Linked DNA regions of Homo sapiens. The protein of the gene in region 1 interacts with the protein of each later gene in a biochemical or structural test. Each region holds a gene or a part of one and is shown in the gene's direction. Other genes may lie near its edges.

Region 1 (3,647 bases):
GAGCCCTCACCTCACCGTGCTCCTTCCTGCTGCAGGGACTGCAAGAGCCTGGGACCTTCTCCCCCTCCCCACTGATTACTTCATCCTGTGGGTCTCAGCTCCATGATTGCAGAGCCTTTGCTCACCTTCCTGACTTGAGTTAAATTGTTGCTATAAATGTTCATGCCACCAGATCTCTCTCCATTATAGCACTTTTCCTAGTGGCAATTTTGCAGTTAATTAATGTAATTATTTGTATTAGTACCTGTCTCCCGGCTACACTGTAAGCTGTGTGAAGGCAGGGTCTCTTTTTTAAAAAAACTTTTTCTAAGTTTTATTTTTTTTTCTTTTAATGTTTTATTTTGATACAATTCAGACCCATAGGAAGGTTGTAAGAATAAATCAAAGAAGTCCCATAAATTCTTCACCCAGATTCCCCAAACATTACCATTTTATTCTTTTTATTTTATCCCTGTGTACATATATATCTATCCTGAACCATTTGAGGATTATTTATCAATGCCTCCTTTCCCCCTACATATATTTCCTAAAAGCGATGATATTCCGTAACTACAATACAAATTTTAGAATCAATAAATTAATAGTGATACAACATTGTTTAATCTATAAACCTCAAGTTTTATATACTTTTTTTTTTTTTTTTGAGAGAGAGTGTCCCTCACTCTGCCACCCAGGCTGGAGTGCAGTGGTGTGATCTCAGTTCACTGCAACCTCCGCCTCCTGGATTCAAGCAATTATCCTGTCTCAGCCTCCCAAGTAGCTGGGATTCCAGGCGTGTGCCACCATGCCCGGCTAATGTTTGTATTTTTTGTGGTGACAGGGTTTCACCATGTTGGATGCTGGTCTCGAACTCCTGACCTCAAGTGATCTGCCTGTCTCAGCCTCCCAAAGTACTGGGATACAGGCCCGAGCCACTGCGCCCGGCCTAGATGTTAGGTTTTGCCAGTTGTCTTAGTGATGTCCTTTTTTATAGCAAAAAAAAAAAAACTCTTATAAATGGGTTGCGTACGGTTGTCATGTCTCGTTAGTTTCCTTTAAACTAAGACAGTTCCCCAATTGTTCTTGGTCCTTCAGGACCTTGACTTTTTTTGTTGTTGTTGTTCCAAGATGGAGTCTCGCTCTGTCGCCCAGGCTGGAGTGCAGTGGCTCAGTCTCAGCTCACTGCAGCATCCGACTCCTGGGTTCAAGCAATTCTCCTGCCTCAGCCTCCTGAGTAGCTGGGATTACAGGCATGTGCCACCACGCCCGGCTAATTTTTTGTATTTTTAGTAGAGACGGGATTTCTCCGTGTTGGTCAGGCTGGTCTCCAACTCCCGACCTCAGGTGATCCGCCCACCTCGGCCTCCCAAAGTGCTGGGATTACAGGCGTGAGCCACCATGCCCAGCCAGACCTTGACGTTTTTGGAAAGTACAAGCCAATTATTTTGTAGAATGCCCCTCACATTGAGTCTGTTTTAACTCACCATTTTGTCCCCAGTGCCAAGCACAGTCCCTGGACCATCAAATGCACTCAGTAAATATTTGTTGAATGAGGAGAGGGAGAGATGGAAGGAGGTGCAAGGGGAAAAGTCAGCAGGTTTTCTGCTTTCTTCCAGCCCCACGCCTTTCCCTGCTGAGTGATGTGGGGTTTTTTTTGTTTTGTTTTTGTTTTGTTTTTTTTGAGATGGAGTCTTGCTCTGTCACCCAGGCTAGAGTGCAGTGGCGCGATCTCGGCTCACTGCAACCTCTGCCTCCTGGGTTCAAGTGATTCTCCTGCCTCAACCTCCCAAGTAACTGAGATTACAGGTGTCCACGACCACGCCCAGCTAATTTTTTGTATTTTTAATAGAGATGAGGTTTTGCCATGTTGGCCAGGCTGGTCTAGAACTCCTGACCTCAAGTGATCCACCTACCTCGGCCTCCCAAAGTGCTGGGATTATAGGCATGAGCCACCCCACCCGGCCTGGATGTTGTTATTTAGTTGCAGTCATACTGTATACAGGTTTGAATCCTGCTATTTTTATAACAAAGCTTTCCCCAAAAAAGAGAGGCTTCCTGAGAAGATAGTGAGCCTGCTGTCCTTGCAGATATACAAGCAGAAGCCAGATGATGGTTTGGCAGGGATACTGGAGAGGCAAATGGAATGTTTGATGAGGGGTGAGACTCATCAGGCTGGGCGTCCCTGCTAATCATGGGTAGACTTCTCTAACTGCAGCACTGACTTCACAGGCCTAGGCCCCCAAGAACAGTGCAACTAGAATTTATCATCCCAACCAGAACAATTTGAGAATAAAAAGGGGTCCTATTAATAATTGCACATGACTGACGGGTCTAAGCCGGGACTGCCCTAGGTAAATCCGGACGTGTGGTCACGTCCGGATTTAAGAGTGACTTCGAGGTTGAGATCAGTGCAGGGTGAGCCAGCATGGAAAACCCTCTAGCACTAGGAATCTTCTACCTGGATAAAGACAAAACTAACCTCTGCATGGCCTGCAGGCCTGATGTTTGTGGCTTTGGTCCCCACACCTCTGTGGTCCCACCTCCAGTAGGATGCCACTCCCAGCTTTGTGCCTGCCACACCGGCCTTTTGTCAGCTCTCACCTCACTATGGTACCTGTCTGCCACAAGGACTGGCAGAGTCTGGAACGTCACTCACATACCCTGGCTGGATGGAGGAGCAGGGACAGAGTTTATGATAGATGGACAGGGAGATGAACAAGCCAGCTGTGCTTCCCACTGACCAATTTCTAATAGAATTTAAGAGCCAGGGTGTGTAAGCAAAGAAGGGCAGGAGGCGGGAGTCACCCTAGACCTTATCTTCTTTCCTCTAGTGCTCACACTTCCACCTCTTCTTCCTGCACCAACGCCCACATCCCTGTTCCAGCCCTAGTTCTGAGATGATGACTAAGTCACTGACCTTTGGCAAAGGCAGGGAAGCAGGTGGCATTGGGGACCCAGGCAGAAGAGGATGGGCATTGGATGGACAGTAGATGCAGACAGGGACTTGGATGCAGAGAAACCAGGCAGGAAACCAGCATCTAGGGATCCCAGTAACAAGGTCACTACAGGGCCATTTATCAGGAAGTCTAGATTTGTAATATCAAGTGACCAGACACTCGGTCAAGGGGTCAGGCTCTGGGATCCATACAGTCTGGTTCTTTAACTTATTTTCTGCCTAGAAGAAAATACAAACCTTGCCTTCCTGGATTACAAATTATTATAGGATGAAAATGTGAAGATAATGGAGCTATTTTCTGGGAAGCATCCCAGTCATGTGAACTTTAAGAACACTGTCCAGTGCAGTCGTGTTTTTATTACTCTAGGCATCAGCAGCTTTAATGGAAAAGCCAGTTAGTAAAGGAATGTTCCGGTTCCTAGAATGCAAGATACTAGTACTGCTGAATGTTGGAAAGATTTTCTGGTTAACTGTGTTATTAGATTTTACTGCTTAAAAATGTACTTTCAGCCTGGTGCGGTGGCTCATGCCTGTAATCCTAGCACTTTGGGAGGCAGAGGCGGGTGGATCACCTGAGGTCAGGAGTTCGAGACCAGACTGGCCAACGTGGCAAAACCCCGCCTCTACTAAAAATACAAAAAATTACACAGTGCTGGTGGGTGCCTGTAGTCGCAGCTACTCCGGAGGCTGAGGCAGGAGAATCACTTGAACC
Region 2 (3,747 bases), on another chromosome or scaffold:
GGGGAGCTTCTGGCCTACAGACCTCAGAGAGACAATGCAGTGACCAGCTCTCCTGCTGGCCCTTCCACCTTTCTTCACTTGGGATCCAAGTCTGCAAGGGGCTGAGCAGAAACCTCCTCCACCACAAAGTGATGGAGAACAGCCCAATGGCTGGTGCTCTAATGGATTCAGACACCGCACCCCCCCCCACACACACACCCCAAATACACTCCCATATAAACACCGCTACCACACACCACTTGTTTCTCTCCCAGCTGAACAGATAGCAGCATCTTGCCTCCTACAGAGGCACCCACATTCTACTCTGAAGGGCCCCTCCCTTCCTTGGACTGCCCTAGGTTTGTGCTTCTCAAGCAGTTCTCCTCTTTGCGGGTTGTCAGAGACCCAGTGGACACATTTCATCCCACCACCTGTGAGGAGCCCAAGAGCAGGGTCCTTATCACAGCTTGACTAAAAGGACACATAAGGTTAAGGATTTGGGCTAAATGAGAGACCTCCACAGAGTCTGGAAAAGTAAAAGGTGTCTCCCTGATGTAGCCAGATAGAAGTGCCGAGAGAACCAGAGGGAGGTTGGTGGTGCCATGGCATCTGCATTGGCTGTTCAAGTACATCCCCGGAGGATAATGGTTGGGAATGGAGAGAAGACCTTGGAGAGAAAAGGGCCCAAAGTGAAGCGCTGCATATATTTCTTCCCTTTACACTGCACAGCCACGACCCCAGCCGCTCCAGCTGCTACTTTCTCAGGAGACCTGGGGAAACAAATCTCCTGGCAAAGGACGAGGGGAGGGGGCTGTGCAGACAGGGAGGTGGCCTGCGAGGAGCCTGCAAGCAGCAAGAGAAGGCCTGAATGTTCTGGGGAAGCAGGGACACCTTGCTTCCAGATACAAGTCAGGGACCACCTCTTCCAGGAAGCCTTACTGGCCTCCACAAACTAGTCTGAGGACCTTTCTGTGTCCACTCCCACGCTCGGCGCTGCCTGCTGTCGTTTTGGGTCTGCGTCCCCGGCCCAGTGCTGCGCAAGCCCCTGGTTCATAGGGTTCTTGGTTCAGAGGGCTCCTCACACGGCAGGATGGGCCGCAGGTGTGCCAGTCGGGCCCATGAGGAGGTATCTGAGCTGGGGCAGCCCCATCCCCCAAGTGGGCCCTCCATCCCTCCTCGGGCTGGAGCACCGCCCCTAAAAGCGACTTCAAAGGGCCGGTGTCGACAGCTGGGTTTGGGTCCGCGGCCTGCAGATCCAAGGCCCGAGCAGGATCCAGGCCGTCGGGGCCGTCCGAACGCGGGGATCTCTGAGAGCTGAGTGGGGGTGCCGGGTTGCCGGCAGCCGGGGCTGAGGGCGGGTCCTCAGAGCCCCCCGAAGTGGGAGGGTCGGGCTGGCCGCGGGGCCAATCCAGGCGCACAGGGAGCGGGGGCGGGGGCTGGGCCGAGTGGGGACAGGGGCGGGCGGGCCGGGGGCGGGCGCGGCGTCCAGGCGGCGGCGGCGGCTGCGGCGGCGGCGGCTCCTCCTCAGAGTCCGGCTCAGGCTCCGGCTGCGGCTCCAGCCCGCGATGCCCCATTCCGTGACCCTGCGCGGGCCTTCGCCCTGGGGCTTCCGCCTGGTGGGCGGCCGGGACTTCAGCGCGCCCCTCACCATCTCACGGGTGAGTCTGGCGGCTGCGTGGCGGCAGGGCGGTCCCATGTCTGAGACCGGGTTCTCGCGGTCCGCCCGGGACCCAGATCCCCTGTGTATCCGAGGCTTGAAGGCGGAGGGTTGGCCTGGGCGCCCCGCATGCTGTAGAGGCGGCTTCCAGGCAGAGGCAGGCAGCCCCAGCCGCCCTCCTCCCACGCTGGGCCTGTCTGCCCGATCCCGCGAAGAATCTCCCAAGAGTTCACGCACCCGCCTCCCCGCTGGCCTCATCTGGGGGAGCCACTGTGGACCCGGGAAGGACCCGCGGAGATGGGCCAGGGGTCTAGACAGCTCTACAGAGGCCCAGAAACTCTTCAGACTCACCCCCTGCCTGAAGATCTGGGGCAAAATGATTTAGAGCCCCCCTTCCCCTATCAGGGGTCCCTGCCGGCAGAGCTTGGTGACCCAGGGAGGTCTGGGGTCCTCGCTGAATCTGAGAAGACAGAGGTCCATCCACTTCCCACTTTGGGCGTGAGTCAGTCTCTCATTCACGACCTCAGTCACCCTAAGGGGAAGTGACCAGGAGGAATTTTGGCTTCCAGGGGAAAGGGAGACTTAACTGTGAGGTTGTGAGACCCCTCCCCACAAGATGACACAAAGCCGGGGGCCAGGACAGCCTCAGGCCCGTTCCTCAAGTTTCCCAGGGCCCTGCCTTGCCCACAGAGAAGGAAAAGGAGCCGGCACAGCCCTGGAGCGTGGCTAGTCTGAGGATAGAGGAGTGGAGGAGGTGACTCAGGCCCTGTTCGAGGGGGTGCCTGTCTAGGGGAGACAGGATCCTGGCCCAGCCTCGACATCCTCGTGTCTGGAGGGCCAAAAGAGAGGACTCAGACCCTGCCCTTGGGGGTCCCCAGCCTAAGGGACAGAAGAGGAGAGAACCCAGGCCCTGCCCTTGGCGGCTCTCAGTCTGGAAGGAGCAGAGGAGATAACCTGAAACCATCTGACGGCCATCCCTTGCTCCCACACAGGCTGATCTTGTCTTTGGGGGCCTGTGTCAGAGGCACAGAGAAGCACCTTCCCCCACCCTACTGCCACCTCTTGCCATGGGGGCTGGGCCAAGCCGGCTGGGCTTTAAGAGACTTCTGTCCAGTTCTTGGGAGGGGGTGGGCACCAGGTGGAGCGTGGAATCATGGAATCCCGTTTCTGGGGGCCAGGGTGACAGGCAGGCCCAGCTGTCCTAGGAGGCTTCCCACATCTGCCCTCACTGCCAGGTCCCTGGGGCCGAGTGAGGTGGGCCTTCAACACATCCCAGAGCCTTTCATCTCCTCTTTCCTATAGGATTCCTGCTGTGTGTGTGTGTGTGTGTGTGTGTGTGTGTACGCAAGCCTGTGTCTGCTTGTGTGTGTCATGCTGTGTGTCCGCTGAGGGGGCTGGTGGGGACACTAAGCGGGCTGGCCAGGCACCCTGGGCGTGAGGCCGCTGACAGGCTCAGTGGCGGCGGCTGACGGCTGCAGGCGGCAGGGAGCTGAGACATCTGTTGCCCACGCGGCTGCCTGCCCTCCGAGGAAAGGCCTCCACACGTCACAGCTGCGGCTGCGGCAGCAGCAGCAGCAACAGCCTTGTTTGGAGCTGACTGGGGATGCAGGCCCCAGGCAGGCAGTCTGGGAGAAGGTTTGCCAGGAAGAGCCTCCTTTGTCCCCCAAAGTCACGCGGCAGCAGCTCAGGCCCAAGGAGCCAGGATGGCTGAGGTTGGGTTTGGGTGGGATCTGGGGAGATTTACAGCGCTGGGGAGGCACAGGCCACAGCTTGCCTAGCAGGTACCTCTGGGGCAGGTCTACAGGGACTGAAGATATGTGGGAGTGTCTTCACCAGTGGGGCTCAAGATCCAGCCCCTCCCTTGCTTCCAGGACCTCCCCTACGCGGGACCTGGTAGGGAGGGACAGCCTCACACAGACAGGGAGGAGGCTATCGGCCCGGCAGGGCTGGGGGCTTGCAATCTCAGCCCATGAAGCCTCCAGGAGTCCCAAGAACATCATCCGGGGCTCCTTCCCCACAAGCTATAATGATGGCTGGCCTTGGCCAAGCATCCAGGGTGTGCCAGGCCCTACCCTAATGGGTGTTGGTAACAGCTCCCTCCAGTCCCTGTA

Evidence for each region. The genes of interacting proteins can lie anywhere in the genome.
Region 2: the proteins of PTPN3 (region 1) and PDLIM4 interact in a test that uses a peptide from one of them, tested with the Homo sapiens proteins (one large-scale study listed by IntAct).

What each region holds. Positions count from the first base shown.
Region 1 is NC_000009.12:109,488,196-109,491,842, reverse strand, and holds part of PTPN3 (tyrosine-protein phosphatase non-receptor type 3), read left to right. Parts: intron 1-3,647.
Region 2 is NC_000005.10:132,256,191-132,259,937, forward strand, and holds the start of PDLIM4 (PDZ and LIM domain protein 4), read left to right. Parts: upstream 1-1,505; 5' UTR 1,506-1,544; coding exon 1,545-1,637; intron 1,638-3,747.